4 linked regions of the Homo sapiens genome follow. The protein of the gene in region 2 purifies or fractionates together with the protein of the main gene of each other region. This does not show direct contact. Each region holds a gene or a part of one and is shown on either strand. Other genes may lie near its edges.

Evidence for each region.
Region 1: the proteins of GDPD1 (region 2) and A2M purify together in Homo sapiens (affinity purification with mass spectrometry; 3 studies listed by BioGRID and IntAct, with this or other methods). This does not show direct contact.
Region 3: the proteins of GDPD1 (region 2) and CFB purify together in Homo sapiens (affinity purification with mass spectrometry; 3 studies listed by BioGRID and IntAct, with this or other methods). This does not show direct contact.
Region 4: the proteins of GDPD1 (region 2) and APOA4 purify together in Homo sapiens (affinity purification with mass spectrometry; 3 studies listed by BioGRID and IntAct, with this or other methods). This does not show direct contact.

What each region holds. Positions count from the first base shown.
Region 1 is NC_000012.12:9,101,720-9,106,302, forward strand, and holds part of A2M (alpha-2-macroglobulin isoform a precursor), read right to left. Parts: coding exon 4,517-4,583; intron 2,682-4,516; coding exon 2,520-2,681; intron 1-2,519. UniProt on the Homo sapiens protein: Is able to inhibit all four classes of proteinases by a unique 'trapping' mechanism. This protein has a peptide stretch, called the 'bait region' which contains specific cleavage sites for different proteinases.
Region 2 is NC_000017.11:59,254,623-59,259,205, forward strand, and holds part of GDPD1 (lysophospholipase D GDPD1), read left to right. Parts: exon of another isoform or gene 1-213; coding exon of another isoform or gene 214-301; intron 302-2,499; coding exon 2,500-2,618; intron 2,619-3,128; coding exon 3,129-3,218; intron 3,219-4,583. UniProt on the Homo sapiens protein: Hydrolyzes lysoglycerophospholipids to produce lysophosphatidic acid (LPA) and the corresponding amines. Shows a preference for 1-O-alkyl-sn-glycero-3-phosphocholine (lyso-PAF), lysophosphatidylethanolamine (lyso-PE) and lysophosphatidylcholine (lyso-PC).
Region 3 is NC_000006.12:31,944,500-31,949,594, forward strand, and holds the start of CFB (complement factor B preproprotein), read left to right. Parts: upstream 1-1,595; 5' UTR 1,596-1,722; coding exon 1,723-1,786; intron 1,787-1,873; coding exon 1,874-2,107; intron 2,108-2,507; coding exon 2,508-2,693; intron 2,694-2,848; coding exon 2,849-3,022; intron 3,023-3,242; coding exon 3,243-3,344; intron 3,345-3,445; coding exon 3,446-3,582; intron 3,583-3,874; coding exon 3,875-4,013; intron 4,014-4,330; coding exon 4,331-4,462; intron 4,463-4,743; coding exon 4,744-4,845; intron 4,846-4,920; coding exon 4,921-5,058; intron 5,059-5,095. Other genes in the region: complement C2 isoform 1 preproprotein, read left to right, coding at 228-354, 481-530, 679-858.
Region 4 is NC_000011.10:116,819,805-116,825,160, forward strand, and holds APOA4 (apolipoprotein A-IV precursor), read right to left. Parts: upstream 3,501-5,356; 5' UTR 3,388-3,500; coding exon 3,339-3,387; intron 2,982-3,338; coding exon 2,855-2,981; intron 2,078-2,854; coding exon 1,063-2,077; 3' UTR 896-1,062; downstream 1-895. UniProt on the Homo sapiens protein: May have a role in chylomicrons and VLDL secretion and catabolism. Required for efficient activation of lipoprotein lipase by ApoC-II; potent activator of LCAT. Apoa-IV is a major component of HDL and chylomicrons.

The DNA.
Region 1 (4,583 bases), on a different chromosome or scaffold from region 2:
AAGATTAATGTTCTCACAAAACTACGTAAGTTTACTGTCCTACCTTAACTAGTAGCTAGAAATCTTTTGTTCCACAATGAAAAGTGGGAGAAGGACCCCTGATTTTGTTTCTCTGCTTCAAATGTAGGCATGCTTTGTGACTTTACACTGCAGAGCCTCCTGGGATTGAGATTTATATTTCTTAAGAGCATAAAAGGAGGCATCCTTTGCTCTGATTAGCTTGCTTGAAATTTCTTTGACTGCTTTACCTGTGCAATTAGAGACACTGGAGCTATGAAACTTCATTGAGGAGAGTAAATAATCTCTAGAAATGGAAGAACTGTGCTTTCAGAAAGCAGCTGCCTCTTTTAGGGTGGATTTTGAATGGGTATTATGAATAAATAAAATATTGTAACCTTAGGGGTCTGAGAAGACATTGGTAGAAAGCATTGGTTTAAGAGCTGAGCTGATGAATTAGCTGAAGTCTACCTCTTCTGGGCTATCTTAGGCTGATTGCTATTATTATTATTTTTTTGAGACAGGGTTTTGCTCTGGCGCCCATGCTGGAGTACAGTGGCACAATCTTGGCTCAGTGCAATCTCTGCCTCTGGGGCTCAAGTGATCCTCCCAGTCAGCCTCCTGAGTTGCTAGGACTACAGGTGCATGCCACCCCACCCAGCTAATTTTTTGTATATTTTGTAGAGACAGGGTTTCACCACGTTGCCTAGGCTCGTCTCGATCTCCTGGCCTCACGCAATCCACCCACCTCAGCCTCCCAAAGTGCTGGGATTACAGGCGTGAGCTACCGTGCCTGGCCTAGGCTGACTATTTTTAATGCTCCCTGCAATCTGGATTCTAATACCTCAGAGGCCCTATTTGGGTTATATTTCCAACTTTTCTTCCTGTAGAAGTTATTCCTTAGCTCCTTTCAGGCTTCCTCTACCTTCATCCCCAGCTCCCAATAGCACTAGTGAATCCTTGAGCAAAACATTTTGTTCATATCTTAATGTATATTTTGGTGACAACACATATATGATCACCCCAAACAGGGAACAGGTAGAAATAATAATTTCATTGTCAAGACTAGCACAGTGCTGGCACGTGGAAAGCATTCAAGACACTTTTTGAAATGAGTAAACATTCAAATTAGAGGGAGGTGCTTTTATGCCATCTATTAAAGCTAAATAAATAAAATGTATTATTTATTTCTCTATAACAAGGTAAAACTCTAAAGAGGCAGGCGTTTTCCATTACCATGATTATGTAATATATATTAAATATGTATTGTATATCCATGTATCTATAGACATGTCTACATCTCTCTTGATGAATAGAGGACTGCATGCTATACCGAATAACTTATATTGGTATGAACAGGTCATCTGGAGAAAATTAGAATAGCAAGACAAAATAAAGTAAGGTAATAATTTTTGGAGTATATATATTTAAAACTAAATGCTAATTATGTTAGAATTGGCTTTTATAGTAAAAGTATCTAACAGTTAAAGGGGGCTTACTAAGTGATTCAACATGTATGATTTCACTTAATCTTCACAACCACCCCAAGAGTCAGGTGTTAGTATTGCAATCATTTTACAGATAAGGAAATGAAGCACAGAGGTTTTAGTTAATTCCTTAAAATAGGGTTGAGCCAGTATTTTTAACCACTTTATCTGATTCAGATTCTGGAATTCACACTTTTCAAAAAAGTTATTATAAACACACACACACACACAACATAAAATTACCATCTTCATTATTCTTTAGTGTACAGTTTGGTAGTATTAAGTATATCTGTTGTGCAACAGATCTCCAGAACTTTTCATCTTGTAAAACTAAACCTGAATACCAATAAGAGGAATTCCCCATTTCTCTCTTTCCCTAGCCCTTGGCAACCACCATCCTGTTTTCTGTTTCTATGACTTTGACTACTTTAGAAACCCCATGTACGTGAATCATACAGTATTGGTCTTTTTGTGACTAGCTTATTTCACTTACCATAACGTCCTCAAGGATCATTCATGCTGTAGCATGTGACAGGATTTTCTTCCCTTCTCAGGCTGCATAATATTCTGTTGTATTTATATACCACATTTTGTTTACCTGTTCATCCCTTGATGGACATTTGGGTAGCCTCGATCTCTCAGCTATTGTGAATAGTGCGGCTATGAACACGGGTGTGCAAATAGCTCTTTGAGACCCCGTTTTCGATTCTTTTGAATATATGTCCAGAAGTAGGATTACTGGATCATTTGGTAATTCTATTTTTTAATTTTTTCAGGAACTACTATACTGTTTTTCATAGTGGCTCCGCCATTTTACGTTCCCAGCAACACTGCTAAAGTCTAACCCGCACTTTTAATCACAATATACTGCCTTCTTTTCATAAACTTTAAAAAAGTTAACCTTCAATCGGTTTCTAATTGCTAGTTTTTTTCTCTCCATAGAACTAGACACAGTTTGGAAATTTTCTCACCCTTAGGTTGCAACCTTGTTTCCAAGGCTACTTCATGTCATTGGTAATTTCTTTCCAAACTTACCCTAACAGTAAGAGAGGTACCCATAACATTGGTGGTGTTGATAGAGAACTGTACAAGGCCATGCTCATCCGTGGTAGCATTGGAGTAATAGTTTGCTTCATTTCCTCTGATGAATATGACTTTATTTGGTATAGGGACGCCTTTCCCATCTACTAGGCGCACCTGAAGATTAAAAGCTGTGGATTAGTTATATTGGTAATAACTAATAGGCACCAAACATATTCATTTATCACATTTTTTAGTGCCTCCTCTATGTTGAACATGGTTCCAGGCACTGAGGACACAGCAGTGAAAAAAAACGAAGTTTCTTCCATCACAGAGCTTACTGTCTAGTGAAAGAGATAGATGCTAAATAAATATATACATAACATACACTAATTTAGTAGTAATCAATCCTAAGAAGAAAAACAGAGCAGTGTGAAGGGATAGAGAGTGATAGGGATAATAACAAGAGTGACCTGAAAAATGTCTTCTAGATATTTTGGAAGTGCTGTGTATTATTATATATAACTCTTAGAGAGTCACAGAGCACTAGAGTAATATGATAATGAAATATTTTAATCTATTAATCTATTAACTAAATTTATTTGTGCCCCAAACACCTATTTTGGAGTGGACCATTAACTTCCTATAGATTAGTGTCTGAAGTCTCATAAGTGCACAAGTAAACAATTGCCAATACATTGTCCTGTGTGTTTCTCCAGTTGCCTTAGACATGGTCTCTGCTTCTCAACCTAGATCTTCAGCCTTTTGGAAGGTAGGCAGATTTTATGACACACTTCCCATGTGAAAAATATAAAATTGAAAAGAGGCACACAGTATTAAATAAGTTGCCAAATCTAATTTACTGCTAATATTGTATTGGCAGTTGAGTAGTCCAGTTCAGATTGTAAAGGTGGCAATTCTTTTTCAGTATAAGCTACAGTTGGTAGCAGGAAGAACAATAGGCTGACCCCCATCAGTACTCATAATTGATTTACAAAATCTAAGTTTGCCAGTGAAATGTTGGCTGCATGTACAAAGACAAGAATAGGCACATAATTCTGATTTTCTTCTAGCTAGAGAGTCTTATGACAAATAGGATATTTAACAGCAATAAAATGTACTTACAAAGTACACTATCTTTCTGAGAAATTTACAAATGAGCTACACTTTCATTTTAGGAAGTTGAATACATTTTGGTGTCATGACATAACCAAGCCTTCTAGAATGTACTCCACTTTGTTGAGTCTATGCCTCTTTTACACCCTTCATAGCTGAAATCCTGTAACATTTACATTAAGAAAATGATACACAGTAAATACACATTGAGGCACATGTAACTGTGATCTCAGACTTCTAGAGTCATAAAGATCCATTTGCACATCTGCTGACAACAGAAAAATTGTAAGAGAAGATTTTTTTGGTAGATAACATGAAAATTCATAATTCAAAAATCTGAGAACCTTAAATAGCAGTGTTTTACCCCATGTTCACTGTTTTAGAAATATACTTGTTATAGAAAAATAGTGTAAATATACTATCCATGAAATAAACATTATTGTAGAATCTTTAATACTTCAAAATAAAAATTAAAACCACCTACCCACCTGTTTCCATACAAAGTTAGTGTTAGCATCGTAATGAAACTGGTCAGCATGAATTTTGAGATTCTTGTGAGAAAATGTCATAAAAACCTGAGACTGCCTGGTAAACCATGAGAAGGAGATTGAGTGACTTGTACAATGCTGTTTCAAAAGAAGGGGGGAAAACTCTACTAATTTTAATAAGGCCTTAGGATAATTACATACATTTCATACACAAATTTACAGAAGAATAAATCTATTTTTATGTAGTTTTATACCTTTGGTTATACTAATCAAGCCTTGGTGATATTTTATACTTTTGGTTATATTAAATGATAACATTAACCAGGCATGGTTTTAGCACAAACCATAACTATTGTGCTAATTAGGTAACAGTACATGGGTTGATGAGTGAACTGGAAAATACTCCACCTGCCCAAAGAAGGGAATTCCCTGTCGAAAGTGTGAGTCCACTTTCACAAATGAGAGTTTGGTTATG
Region 2 (4,583 bases):
TTATAAGTGTTAGATGCACATCTCAAGATAGCTTAAGAAAAAAATTAAAAATGAATATATTGGTTTTCATAATTAGAAAGTCCAGGGGTTATATGCCCTCAGACATGACTGATTCCAGTTGCTCAAGCAGTAATTGGTCTCTCTCTATCTCCGTTTCTTGCTTTTGCTTTCATTTGTGTTAGCTTTGCTTTTAGGGACACCCTTTCCACAGAGATGAACTCTTGGCAGCTTGTACATGATCCGTTCAGCAAAGGATTTCAAGAGGCTTCTCTCCCAGTGTCCATATTGTTATGCTTAACAGGTTAGACTGGTCATATATTTAGTCTGTGGTCAGAGAGGCAGAGCCAATGATTGACAGTCCCATCAGAGTAACCCAGAGCCCCATCAGAATTACAAGAAGTATAGTAACAGACTTTTCCTTTTTTTCCCCTTTAATGTACATGCTGCTTTTCACACAGGGTATAATTATAAATAATTTAATTTTCTGACATGGATTTCATTTACTTTTTGATAATGCATCTTTATTTTGATTTGCCATATAATAAGACGGAATAAAGGATTTTCACCATTTTGTTATTTGCAGATTAGTGGAATTGAAGGTTCAGACGGAAGCAGAACAATTTTTACAATAGTTATATAGTATGTATAGTAAATTATATAAATGATTAGAGTAATTAGAGTCAAAAGGGACTAGAGAGCCAGGTGTGGTGGCTCACACCTGTAATCCCAGCACTTAGGGAGGCTGAGGCAGGAGGTTTGCTTGAGATCAGAAGTTCAAGACCAGCCTGGGCAAAATACAGTGAGACCCTGTCTCTACAAAAAATAAAATAAACAATAGGCCGGGCACAGTGGCTCACGCTTGTAATCCCAGCACTTTGGGAGGCCAAGGCTGGTGGATCACCGAACGCCAGGAGTTTGAGACCATCCTGGCCAACATGGTGAAACCCTGCCTCTACTAAAAATACAAAAAATTAGCCAGGTGTGGTGCCGGGCGCCTGTAATCCCAGCTACTTAGGAGGCTGAGGCAGGAGAATCACTTGAACCTGGGAGGCGGAGGTTGCTGTGAGCCGAGATCGCACTATCGCACTCCAGCCTGGGCAACAAGAACGAAACTCCGTCTCAAAAAAAAAAAAAAAAAAAATATATATATATATATATATATACGCGTATATATGTATATATATATATACGCGTATATATATATACGCGTATATATATATATATATATACACACGTATATATATATATATATACACACACACACACACACATATATATATATGGGCGTGGTGGTGCATGCCTGTAGTGCCAGAGGATTGCTGGAGTGTGGGAGGCCGCAGTGAGCCATCATCATGCTACTGCACTCCAGCCTTGGCTATGAGCAAGATCCTGTCTCAAAAAAACAACAAAAAAGGGACCGGGTACATGGTTCATGCCTGTAATCCCAGCACTTCGGGAGGCCGAGGCGGGCAGATCACTTGAGCTCAGGATTTTGAGACCAGCCTGGCCAAATGCAAAACCCCATCTCTACAAAAACTACAAAAAAATTAGCCGAGCGTGATGGTGCTCCTGTAGTTCCAGCTACTCAGGAGGTCAAGGTGGGAGGATCACTTGGGCCCAGGAGGCAGAGGTTGCAGTGAGCTGAGATCGTGTCACTGCACTCCAGTCTGGGCGACAGAGTGAGACCCTGTCTCAAACAAACAAACAAACAAAAAAGAGACTAGAGAAAGACTAAAGAAAATAATCCTCAGGAAATATAAAGAACAATTAAAGTCCCCTTCTAATTTTTTCATTACTTGAATTTTCTTTGAATAACTGCATTCATATAATTCTTCAACACATTACTGATTTAGTGTATACTTCCCTTGCCTGAATGTTATTTTTAATCTCTGAAAAAGTCAATGATGATATAGCAAAACTTTAGAAACAATCTCAGTATCTACTAGTAGGGAAATGGTTAAATTAAAATAAATTATTGTATAGCTACTCAATGGAGTATTTTGACATCTTTTAAAAAATTATGATAGAATCAGATCGGTGGATTGTATCAATGTCAGTATCATGGTTGTGATATTGTACTATAGATTTGCAAGAAGGTTACCACTGGGAAATCTGGGTAAAGGGTACATGGACCCTATTATTTCTTACAATTGATTGTGAATCTGTAGTTATCTCAAAATAAAAAATTAATAAATCATAATCATAAGCACAGTAAATCAACAGGAAAATATTTATTTTTATGTGAAAATATCAAGTTAAAATCTGTAGCACATCATATTATTAGTATATTAAATCATGCATAGGAAAAAAGAGTAGAGAAAGTACACCAGATGGTCATAGCATTTATATCTAAGTTGTTGGATTTACATGATTTTTTTCTTCTCTATACTTTTCCTTATTTTATAAATGTCCTTTAATGAATATATACAATACCTTCTCTAGTCATCAAAAAGTAAAACTTATATTTAAAAAATACATTTAAAAATCTTGCTTTCTCAGCATGCCAGTGTGAAGGAAAAGATAACCGAATTCCATTACTGAAGGAAGTTTTTGAGGCCTTTCCTAACACTCCCATTAACATCGATATCAAAGTCAACAACAATGTGCTGATTAAGAAGGTACTCAAGGCATTGCCTCCTCTGGGTGTGTTGCATCCTATTTCACAAACTAAATAAGGTTAGAGTCAGTGACTGCATAGATTGATAATGCTCAAGGAAATGTGATACCCTAGGGATCAGCATTGTTTTAAATAATGCCTTAGTAGAAGAGATCATTTTACTGTAGGAGAGAGCCTATTTTCAGAGAGAGTTGGCATGTCATGGATAAAATAAGGTTGTATGAACCAATCATTCTGGCATTTATGTAATTATCTTCTAGTTTAACTTGTTTCATTCATGGTTAGTTTATGTCAAATTACTAAATAACTCTATTCTGTTAAATAAATTATATAATGATATAATGTGAATAAATTTTGCATTTTATAAAATATTCTAAATTTACATATTGATTCTTCCAAAAGTTATGCTATTCATTCACAGATAGTCAATTCTAATTCATTTTTTAAGTGAAATGTTGTTAGTGGATTTGCAAATAGGCACATGCATAAAATTTTGAATTTTCACACGTAGGTTTCAGAGTTGGTGAAGCGGTATAATCGAGAACACTTAACAGTGTGGGGTAATGCCAATTATGAAATTGTAGAAAAGTGCTACAAAGAGGTAAGCTTCAAAAATGATACAGAATTATCTATCTTTGTTGTTGTTTTGTATCTACAAATGATAAGTTATTATAGTAATAATTTTTTTTCTTTTTCTTATTTTTAGAGATAGGGTCTCACCCTGTCACCCAGGCTGGAGTGCAGTGGTGCAATCATAGCTCACTGCAGCCTCAAACTCCTGGGCTCAAGTGATCCTCCTGCCTCAGCCTCTCAAGTAGCTGGGACTACAGGCACACACCACTGCACCCAGCTAATTTTTAAATCTTTAGTAGAGATGAGGTCTCACTATATTGCCCACTCTGGTATCAAACTCTTGGACTCAAGCAATCCTCCTGCCTTGGCCTCCCAAAGTGGTGGGATTACAGGTGTGAGCCATTGTGCCTGGCCCTTATTACAGTAATAATTTTTAAAGCATCTTATTTCAGGCCGGGCGCAGTGGCTCACGCCTGTAATCCCAGCACTTTGGGAGGCCAAGGCAGGTGGATCATAAGGTCAGGAGTTCGAGACCAACCTGGCCAATATGGTGAAACCCTGTCTCTATGAAAATATAAAAATTAGTTGGGCATGGTGGCACGTGCCTGTAGTCCCAGCTACTCAGGAGGCTGAGGCAGAAGAATCACTTGAACCCGGGAAGCAGAGGTTGCAGTGAGCTGAGATCATGCCACTGCACTCCAGTCTGGGCAACAGAGCAAGACTCTGTCTCAAAAAAAACAAACAAACACTTATCTTATTTCATAGCCTTCATACACAGGTAGATGGTACTGGGTGGAAGCAACTAGCCAGAAGTTTAATATAGTAGAGATAATGGATTTGAACCTAGCAATATAAGGTCAATGCAGTTGAACTGGTTCAAGGAATTATTATTTTCACATGCTAATGTTAGTTGCTTACCAATATTTCATTATGTGTATTAAAGGAAAAAATACAGTTTCTATCTTTTAATCACTGTCTTGTGTTAGGTAATTAAATTTTTTGTGTGTAATTTTGAGTTAAATTATTTAGCTGGGCATGATGACTCATGCCTGTAATCCTAGCACTTTGGGAGGCCAAAGTGGGAGGATTGCTTGAGCCCAGGTGTTTGAGACCAGCCTGGACAACATAGTGAGACCCCCTTTCTATTATTATTATTATTAATTATTTTTAATTTTCTTTTGCCTGTAACACAGCCCTCAGGAGATCCTGAGAACATGTGCCTATTTTTTTTTTAAGAAAGAAATTATTTAAGGGGTGAAGATTGCTTGAGGCCAGGAATTTGAGACCAGCCTGGGCAACATAGTAAGACTTCTAACTCTATTAAAAAAAAAAAAATCCTGGGCACAGTGGCTCGCCCCTGTAATCCCAGCACTTTGGGAGGCCGAGGCAGGCG
Region 3 (5,095 bases), on a different chromosome or scaffold from region 2:
GCCTCCCGAGTAGCTGAGATTACAGGTGCCCACCACCACACCAGCTAATTTTTGTATTTTTAGTAGAGACGGGATTTCGCCATGTTGGCCAGGATGGTCTTGAACTCCTGACCTCAAGTGATCTGCCTGCCTCAACCTCCCAAAGTGCTGAGATTACAGGCGTGAGCCACTGCACCCACCCGGGTCTGCTTATTCTACCCTTCTCTCTGGTTCCACCCCTGCTGCAGTGGACAAGCTGTGCCGAGGTTGTCTCCCAAGAAAAAACCATGTTCCCCAACTTGACAGATGTCAGGGAGGTGGTGACAGACCAGTTCCTATGCAGTGGGACCCAGGAGGATGAGAGTCCCTGCAAGGGTGAGTCCCTCACCATGCCTGGATTCCCAAGGGGAAGGCCACCTGTGTCTCTGTGGCCAGCATGCATGCCAGAACACCAGTCCACTGCCCTAGATGACACTGTCTCCTGTCACCCTTTGCTGGCAGGAGAATCTGGGGGAGCAGTTTTCCTTGAGCGGAGATTCAGGTTTTTTCAGGTGAGAAGGTAGAAGCTTGCAGGACCCAGGGGTTACAGGATCTCAGCCTTGTTGGGGGGATGAGGGAGGCCTTTGAGGGATCTAGGGAGGTTGGGGCTTACAGTTGGGGCTGTGGCAGCCTCCCAGCCAGTTCTCTCCTTTTCTCCAGGTGGGTCTGGTGAGCTGGGGTCTTTACAACCCCTGCCTTGGCTCTGCTGACAAAAACTCCCGCAAAAGGGCCCCTCGTAGCAAGGTCCCGCCGCCACGAGACTTTCACATCAATCTCTTCCGCATGCAGCCCTGGCTGAGGCAGCACCTGGGGGATGTCCTGAATTTTTTACCCCTCTAGCCATGGCCACTGAGCCCTCTGCTGCCCTGCCAGAATCTGCCGCCCCTCCATCTTCTACCTCTGAATGGCCACCCTTAGACCCTGTGATCCATCCTCTCTCCTAGCTGAGTAAATCCGGGTCTCTAGGATGCCAGAGGCAGCGCACACAAGCTGGGAAATCCTCAGGGCTCCTACCAGCAGGACTGCCTCGCTGCCCCACCTCCCGCTCCTTGGCCTGTCCCCAGATTCCTTCCCTGGTTGACTTGACTCATGCTTGTTTCACTTTCACATGGAATTTCCCAGTTATGAAATTAATAAAAATCAATGGTTTCCACATCTCTCAGTGCCTCTATCTGGAGGCCAGGTAGGGCTGGCCTTGGGGGAGGGGGAGGCCAGAATGACTCCAAGAGCTACAGGAAGGCAGGTCAGAGACCCCACTGGACAAACAGTGGCTGGACTCTGCACCATAACACACAATCAACAGGGGAGTGAGCTGGATCCTTATTTCTGGTCCCTAAGTGGGTGGTTTGGGCTTACTGGGGAGGAGCTAAGGCCGGAGAGGAGGTACTGAAGGGGAGAGTCCTGGACCTTTGGCAGCAAAGGGTGGGACTTCTGCAGTTTCTGTTTCCTTGACTGGCAGCTCAGCGGGGCCCTCCCGCTTGGATGTTCCGGGAAAGTGATGTGGGTAGGACAGGCGGGGCGAGCCGCAGGTGCCAGAACACAGATTGTATAAAAGGCTGGGGGCTGGTGGGGAGCAGGGGAAGGGAATGTGACCAGGTCTAGGTCTGGAGTTTCAGCTTGGACACTGAGCCAAGCAGACAAGCAAAGCAAGCCAGGACACACCATCCTGCCCCAGGCCCAGCTTCTCTCCTGCCTTCCAACGCCATGGGGAGCAATCTCAGCCCCCAACTCTGCCTGATGCCCTTTATCTTGGGCCTCTTGTCTGGAGGTAAGCGAGGGTAACCTTCCCTTCCTGCTGTCTCCAGCATCCCTCCTTGGCCTTTTGGGGCCAGGCTTCATCAGCCTTTCTCTTCAGGTGTGACCACCACTCCATGGTCTTTGGCCCGGCCCCAGGGATCCTGCTCTCTGGAGGGGGTAGAGATCAAAGGCGGCTCCTTCCGACTTCTCCAAGAGGGCCAGGCACTGGAGTACGTGTGTCCTTCTGGCTTCTACCCGTACCCTGTGCAGACACGTACCTGCAGATCTACGGGGTCCTGGAGCACCCTGAAGACTCAAGACCAAAAGACTGTCAGGAAGGCAGAGTGCAGAGGTTTGAGGGCAATGAGTGTGGGCAGTGGCCTAAGGCAGAAACAGGGCAGGCGGCAGCAAGGTCAGGACTAGGATGAGACTAGGCAGGGTGACAAGGTGGGCTGACCGGGAGTAGGAGCAGTTTTAGGGTGGCAGGCGGAAAGGGGGCAAGAAAAAGCGGAGTTAACCCTTACTAAGCATTTACCCTGGGCTTCCAGGCAGCCCTGGAAGTCAAGAGAACACTCAGAAATGGGGAGGGAGAAGCAGTGGAAATCCATATGGGTTGAGGAGTAGGTAAGATGCTGCTTCTGCGGGACTGGGAATGCGCTGTTTCTCAGTGACATGGTCTCCGAGACCAGGAGGGATACACCTAAGGCAGCCTTTCCCTCTTGATGACTTCTACTTGTCCCCCCTTCTCAAAGCAATCCACTGTCCAAGACCACACGACTTCGAGAACGGGGAATACTGGCCCCGGTCTCCCTACTACAATGTGAGTGATGAGATCTCTTTCCACTGCTATGACGGTTACACTCTCCGGGGCTCTGCCAATCGCACCTGCCAAGTGAATGGCCGATGGAGTGGGCAGACAGCGATCTGTGACAACGGAGGTGAGAAGCATCCCCTCCCCCTACATTGCTGTCTCCCTGACGGCGCCCAGCCCGAGGAGTGGGCACTCGGCTCCGGACACTGTAACTCTTGCTCTCTACCTTGCTCACGGGGCCTCAGGCTTCAGTGCTTACCTCGATGTCTCATACCTCTGCAGCGGGGTACTGCTCCAACCCGGGCATCCCCATTGGCACAAGGAAGGTGGGCAGCCAGTACCGCCTTGAAGACAGCGTCACCTACCACTGCAGCCGGGGGCTTACCCTGCGTGGCTCCCAGCGGCGAACGTGTCAGGAAGGTGGCTCTTGGAGCGGGACGGAGCCTTCCTGCCAAGGTGACCTTTGACCTGTACCCCCAGGTCAGATCCTGGTCTTCCATCCTACTGTCTTCTCTCCCCACCTCAACCCTGCTCTTTCCTCACTTTGTTTAAACCTCCCTGTACAACTATCTCACTTCTGAGCCTTTTATACCCTGGAAACCCATGATCCCCCGTCTCTTTGGTCACTGTATCCCTGACACTCCCAGACATTTGACCTCATTTCTGACTCTCCCAGACTCCTTCATGTACGACACCCCTCAAGAGGTGGCCGAAGCTTTCCTGTCTTCCCTGACAGAGACCATAGAAGGAGTCGATGCTGAGGATGGGCACGGCCCAGGTTTGAAGACAGAGAAGGGAGGCAGGGCAGGGAACTGGGGGAAAATGGAGAAGGGACAGAACTGTTAATGCTGGAGCCTGAGCCACTCTCCTGGCACCCAGGGGAACAACAGAAGCGGAAGATCGTCCTGGACCCTTCAGGCTCCATGAACATCTACCTGGTGCTAGATGGATCAGACAGCATTGGGGCCAGCAACTTCACAGGAGCCAAAAAGTGTCTAGTCAACTTAATTGAGAAGGTGGAATCCTCCTATCCCTGAACTCGGGGGAATGGAATCTCGCTGATCTTCCAGGACTAGCTCCCTGATCATTCCAGCCCCTCTGAACAACAGGGCCCCAGGAAAATCTCCAGGTCCTATTCTGTCCTCCTTCCCTTTTACTTGAAGCAGTTTCTTGACTGGTAATTCCTCCATGAACCTCAGCCCTTGAGCCTCTTACTGAGAGCCTCCCTGTCCCAGCAAAGTCGCTGAAATCTCCCAATCACAGTATTCTATTTTCAATGCCATGGCGCCTTGTTCTCCTCACCCACAGGTGGCAAGTTATGGTGTGAAGCCAAGATATGGTCTAGTGACATATGCCACATACCCCAAAATTTGGGTCAAAGTGTCTGAAGCAGACAGCAGTAATGCAGACTGGGTCACGAAGCAGCTCAATGAAATCAATTATGAAGGTCAGAGGTTAGGGAATGGTGGGAGGTTCACTTTGGGGTCAGGAGGTTCAGGGTGGAGGGGGTCATGAGACTACCTTGAGGGCGACAGGGAGGACCACTTTGTAGTCAAAAGTTGAACAGCAGGATCGTTGGGCAATGGAGGTTAGTGGGAACCTGTTGGGGGCTGGAAGGGCCACTTTGTGGTCAAAGGGAAGTCCGTGTAATGATGATTAACTTAAAAAGTTGAAAGATGTGGGATTTCAGTTGCAGATTGGTCTCTGGGGTTAAAAGATGGCTTGGAAGACCAGGTGAGGTGATGGTCTCTTCCCTCTCCACAGACCACAAGTTGAAGTCAGGGACTAACACCAAGAAGGCCCTCCAGGCAGTGTACAGCATGATGAGCTGGCCAGATGACGTCCCTCCTGAAGGCTGGAACCGCACCCGCCATGTCATCATCCTCATGACTGATGGTCAGAAGGGACCTCTCTCCTGTCCCAGCCTCCCCACCTTCTCAGACCAGCATGTGGCCCTTAAGTCCACTTGTAACACTATACCCATGGTTGGGGCCCTGAATGTGACTCATAGCTGGCTGTTCATCTCTCCTGTGACCCTTCATAAGGAATTCTTCCTAAGCCCTGTGATCAACTATCTCTAACCCTTCCTCAACTTGCTCACCCTGCCATGTGTATCCCTGCCTTTAGCCAGTTTATCTTCCTTATCTCCTACCCTCATGGTCCTGTCTCTTCTGCAGGATTGCACAACATGGGCGGGGACCCAATTACTGTCATTGATGAGATCCGGGACTTGCTATACATTGGCAAGGATCGCAAAAACCCAAGGGAGGATTATCTGGGTGAGTAACCTGCCTAGGACCCAGCACCCCACTTCCTCAGGGCTTGGACCCTCATCCTTCCTTTTTATCCCTCAGATGTCTATGTGTTTGGGGTCGGGCCTTTGGTGAACCAAGTGAACATCAATGCTTTGGCTTCCAAGAAAGACAATGAGCAACATGTGTTCAAAGTCAAGGATATGGAAAACCTGGAAGATGTTTTCTACCAAATGATCGGTAGGGAGATACAAGGGAATAAAGAACACAACTCTCC
Region 4 (5,356 bases), on a different chromosome or scaffold from region 2:
CTAGACTCGCAGGGCTGGGGTCCACGGGTAACAGGCTGTGGAGTCGTTTGAGACAAACGCTTGAACTGGCTCTTTCCTTGTGAGGTTTTCGAGTCTCTAAGGGTGGGGTGAAAGACCACTCCAAGGCTGCAGCTGCCCACAGCTGGCTGTGCTGATGAGACTGCTCAGGCCCCCTGACTCTCTGCCCCTAACCCCAGTGGCTGCAAACTCAGCCCCAAACTGGCAGGCCACCTGGCAGGAGGCCCCTGGACAGAGCAGACCAGGGCCCCGCAGGCTCCAGCACCTGCTCTGCCCCTCCTCCCCAGACTCGTCTCGGTCCCCAAGCCTCAATCCCCAATTCTGGATGGAGACCACAGGTTTAGCAGTCAAGAAAGTTCTGAAATAAGCATGAATCGCTTTCATAATGGAACTGGGGTGGGGTGGGTTAAATGACACTACATGAATAAGTTAAAGGCACTGAAGATCTCGTGCAAGGAGGAACCATCTCCCCCAGTGTACTGTGAGCCCCCCAGGGCCAGGGACCCTGTTCTGCTCGCCTCCAGGTGTCCCCCTCAGTGTGAGGCAGAGTCGGGCACATGGCTGCACAAAAGCTGTTTGCTGGTTGTCCGGTGCCTAGAATAATGACTGGCGCATCGGAGGCATTCAATGCATATTTGTTGGCTAAATGAATATAAGTAGGTTGCATATTTTGTCTTGGGATAATGTGTGACATCTTTTTCTGCCTCCCCTTAGAGGACTCCCCATGTACTCGCCTCCAGTCCACCAGGCCCTTACCTCTCCTGCAGTCTCATCTCCCCAATCCTGGGTGTCTCCTGCCAGGCCGCTGCTAAGCTCTGCCCAGTCATGGTTACCTCCCCACCTCCCCAGCTGCAAGGAGGATTCATCCGGCAACCAGTTGAGGCTAGATTCTCAGCAGCTTTATTGAATATTGAGAGGTGGTCTCACCTCCCACTGGACATGTGTCCTCAAGTTCATACCAGAACTTCTTTGGGACAGACAGACAGACAGGTGGCAGGGCAGGGCAGGTGTCCACGAGGGTGGGGCCAGTGCACCAGGGGCAGCTCAGCTCTCCAAAGGGGCCAGCATCTGCACCTGCTCCTGCTGCTGCTCCTGCTGCTGTTCCTGCTGTTGCTCCAGCTCAGGGAGGGAGAGAGTCTTGTCCTGGCTCTCTTTCTCCTTGAAGGTGCTGAAGAAGGAGTTGACCTTGTCCCTCAGGTCCTTCTCCAGGAAGCTCAAGTGGCCTTCCACGTCCCCCGCATGGGGGCCCAGTTTCTGCCTGAGCTGTTCCATCTGCTGCACCAGGGCTTTGTTGAAGTTTTCCCCGTAGGGCTCCACCCGGCGTCGGAACTCCTCCACCTGCTGGTCCAGGTGCCCACCCAGCTCTGCCAGTGACTTCTGCAGCCCCTCGGTGTTGCCCCTCAGGTTGCCACGCACGTCCTCGGCCAAGGGCGCCAGCCTCTGCCGCAGCTCCTCGGCACTGGCCGAGATCCTGGCCTTGAGCTCCTCGGCGTTCTTCTTCATCTGGAAGGTCAGGCCCTCAAGCTGGTGGTTGAGCTTCTCCTGCGTGTCCTGAGCATAGGGAGCCAGGCTGCGGCGCAGCTCCTCCACGGTCTGGTCAATCTTGACTTTGAATTCGTCAGCGTAGGGCGTAAGGCGTCCCTTGAGCTCCTCCACGTTCTGGTCGATCTTGGCCTTGAGCTCGTCGGCGTGGGGCCTCAGCGAGGCCTGCAGGCTGTCGGCGTTCTCCCGCAGCACTCTCTCCATGCGCTGTGCGTAGGGGGTCAGCTGGCGCCGCAGCTGCTCGGCCTGCGTGCTGACCTGGGTGCGCAGCTGGTCCGCGTAGGGCTCCAGGCGCTGCTGAAGCTCTCGCAGGTTGTCCCCGATCTTCTGGCTCACCTCATTGGCATGGGGCAGCAGCCGGGCCCTCAGCTCCTCCAGCTCCTTCCCAATCTCCTCCTTCAGTTTCTCCGAGTCCTTGGCCAGGCGTTCATGCAGCTCGGTGGCAAAGGGCACCAGCTTCTTCTGCAGGTCACCTGCGTAAGTGTTCACTTCTCCAAGTTTGTCCTGGAAGAGGGCACTGTGGGGAAGGGCACAAGGAGGCCACGTTACATTTGGCATTTACACGGCAAGACTTTGTCTGCTTGTATACCACTCGCCTTATGCACACGTGCTAGGACAGGTGAGTGCTCAGAGGTACCGAGTTCACCCTCCCTATGGTGGTGCAGATTGGAGAGGATGGGTGTCACAGACTAAGTTACGATGCTGAATTTCTATCTCAGGATCTCCCACATAGTTTGTCTCAGAATCTACCCACCATGTCACCTCCAGCAGTTTGCTTTCCCCTCCTTGTCTGCAGAGGGTGGGACTTTGAGGTCCTTCCCAGAGGGAGTGTTCTGGGCCATAGGATCACATTGTGTAACACAATGTTGTCTTCTTGACCTCTGCTGGGGTCTTCCAGTGGCACAAGGTGCTGCTTTCCTTGCCTGTGCCCAGGGGCCTCCCAAATATTCCCACCTCCCTCCCCTTGATTCCACTGGGGCCTGTCTTTCTGAAACGTATTAGAAATCAGCTCACGTGACATTTTCCTCCCTCCCTCTCTTCCATGAGCCTGAATGATAGGATGTGGCCATTTGTCAAACTCTAGAACGTCAAAGCAAAAGGACATGGCAGGGATTATTCGGTCCAAACTTCCGGTTTACATATGTGGATCCTAGGTTCAGAGGCCCGGCCAGTTAGTGGCAGGGCAGTGGGTATCCTAAGCTCAGGGCTCCTGTCTCTAAGCTCAACCCTTGCCAGTACATTGCATGGCCTTTAAGAATTCCCCGTCACCACCGCACACTGTAGTCCCTCTTACTTGAGTTGCTGGGTGAGTTCAGATTTCTGGAGATGTTCCACGGCCTCCTTGGCATTGTTGCTCAGCTGGCTGAAGTAGTCCCACATCACCGTGGCCACCTGGTCAGCACTGACCTCAGCCCTGGCTCCTGGGTGGTAACAGAGAGCAATTCATGAGGCCCCGTCTCCTGTGTGGCCCCTCTGCTCCAGCTCTGAGCTGCAGACTGGATGATGGTGGGGGTGCCTCAACCTGCCATTTTCCCTGTCTGAGCTTAGCTTTTTGGAAGCCACAGGGATATGTGAAACTGGTATAGCACCAATGCCAATGGGCCCACCACTGGGACTGGGCCAGCTCTCCTGTGAGCCACTTGGCAGCCAGGCAGACCTCATGTCCAGCTGGGGGCTGATGGGCACTCAGAAGTGTCCTTTTGCTTTGGCTCAGCCTCCATCCTGCACTACTCAGAGCAGCAGCCCAGGAGTGCCATCCAAAGACAGCTTCTACTCACCGGCGACAGCCACCAGGGCCAGGGTCAGGACCACGGCCTTCAGGAACATCCTGAGCTGCTTGCTGGGCTGGAGGAGTTTCTTGCCACACTGGATCCTCCCTACAATCAGGGGAGCTGACAGAGAGGTCCTCAGGAGAGCTCACCTGCGCTGCAGTGGGAACTGACTGAAGCTCAGAGCCAGCCAGACATTTAAACTCTCTCCCTATCGCCACCCCCCTGGCTGCCCTCCCCTCCTCCTTCCTCAGTGTGACTCCACGCTGGAAGGTGACACATTCCCAAGAGGCCTCTTGGACTTTTGTGACCCTGAGACTACGTGGAAGCTGACAGCAGATCAGGGCTCAGGCGATAGTTAGAAGTGGTGGCTGTTCCGTGCGTGGGCACCCCCACCCCCACCCCACCAACCTCAGCATGGAAGGGAGGAGGGGAACGGAAAACAGTAGGAGAAACACCTCAGGGAGCCCATGAGCCCGGGACTGATGCCTCGAGGCCCTGCTGGCGGCTCTGGGTTTGTGCCGGGCTCATGGGGGGCAAAGTCCACATCTCCTCTGTCTACCCCAGTGAAGACAGGTCCCCCCAGTCTCCACATCCGCCACTAATGCTGACTCCATCTCAGAGCACCAGACACTGGAGTGGGACCATCCAGGACTGCAGACAGCATAGTGAGCTAAAATCTAGGTCTCTTGTCAAGGTACACCCAAGAGGAGGGGGCCCTGGAGAGCCTTTGGGCAGATGGGTGTGGGAGACAGGGCCTTGTCCTGAAAGGGTTAATTGTAGAGTGCTTCATGTCCCACTCCCATGCTGTGCCTCCTTGGTCTAGTTATTCAAAGCCCTGAGCTTCAGTTTCTCCTCTGAACAATGGGATGGTTCAGTACATTAAAGAAGACATTGCTTGCGAAGTGGGTAGTACGGTCATCTCTCAGTCTCCATGGGAAATTGATTCCAGGACCCTCTGCAGATACCAAAATCCATGGATGTTCAAGTCCTTGATATAAAATGGCATAGTATTTGCATATAACCTAAGCACAGCCTCCCACATACTTTAAATCTCTAGATTACTTATAATACCTAATACGACGGAAATGCTGTGTGAATGGTTGTTATACTGTATTGTTTAGGAGGTAATCACCAAAAAAGTCTGTATATGTTTAGTACAGGTGCAATTTTTTTTTTTTTTGAGATGGAGTCTTACTCTGTCACCCAGGCTGGAGTGCAGTGGCACGATCTTAGCTCACTGCAATCTCTGCCCCCCAGGTTCAAGTGATTCTCCTGCCTCAGCCTCCTGAGTAGCTGGGATTACAGGCACCCACCACCACGCCCAGCTAATTTGTGTATTTACAGCAGAGACGGGGTTTCACCATGTTGCTCAGGCTGGTCTCCAACTCCTGGCCTCAAGCAATCCTCCCATGTGGGCCTCCCAAAGTGCTGGGCTTATAGGCGTGAGCCACTGCGCCCTGCCCAGATGCAATTTTTTTAAAACATTGTTTTTAATGGAGATGGGGTGTCGCTATGTTGCTCAGGCTGGTCTCCAACTCCTGGCCTTAAGTGATCCTCCAATCTCTGCCTCCTAAAATGCTGGGCTTACAGGCATGAGCCACTGCACCCGGCCCACAGATGCAATTTAAAAAAAAAAATATATATATATATATATATATATTTTTTTTTTTTTTTTTTTTTTTGAGATGGAGTCTTGCTCTGTCACCCAGGCTGGAGTGCAGTGGCACGATCTCGGCTCACTGCAAGCTCTGCCTCCCGGGTTCACGCCATTCTCCTGCCTCAGCCTCCCAAGTAGCTGGGACCATAGGCGCCCGCCACCACGCCCGGCTAATTTTTTTTTTTTTTTTTGTATTTTTAGTAGAGATGGGGTTTCGCCGTGTTAGCCAGGATGGTCTCGATCTCCTGACCTCGTGATCCGCCCGCCTCAACCTCCCAAAGTGCTGAGATTACAGGCGTGAGCCACCACGCCCGGCCTAAAAAATTATTTTCAATCCAAGGTTGGTTGAATCCATGGACACAGAAAC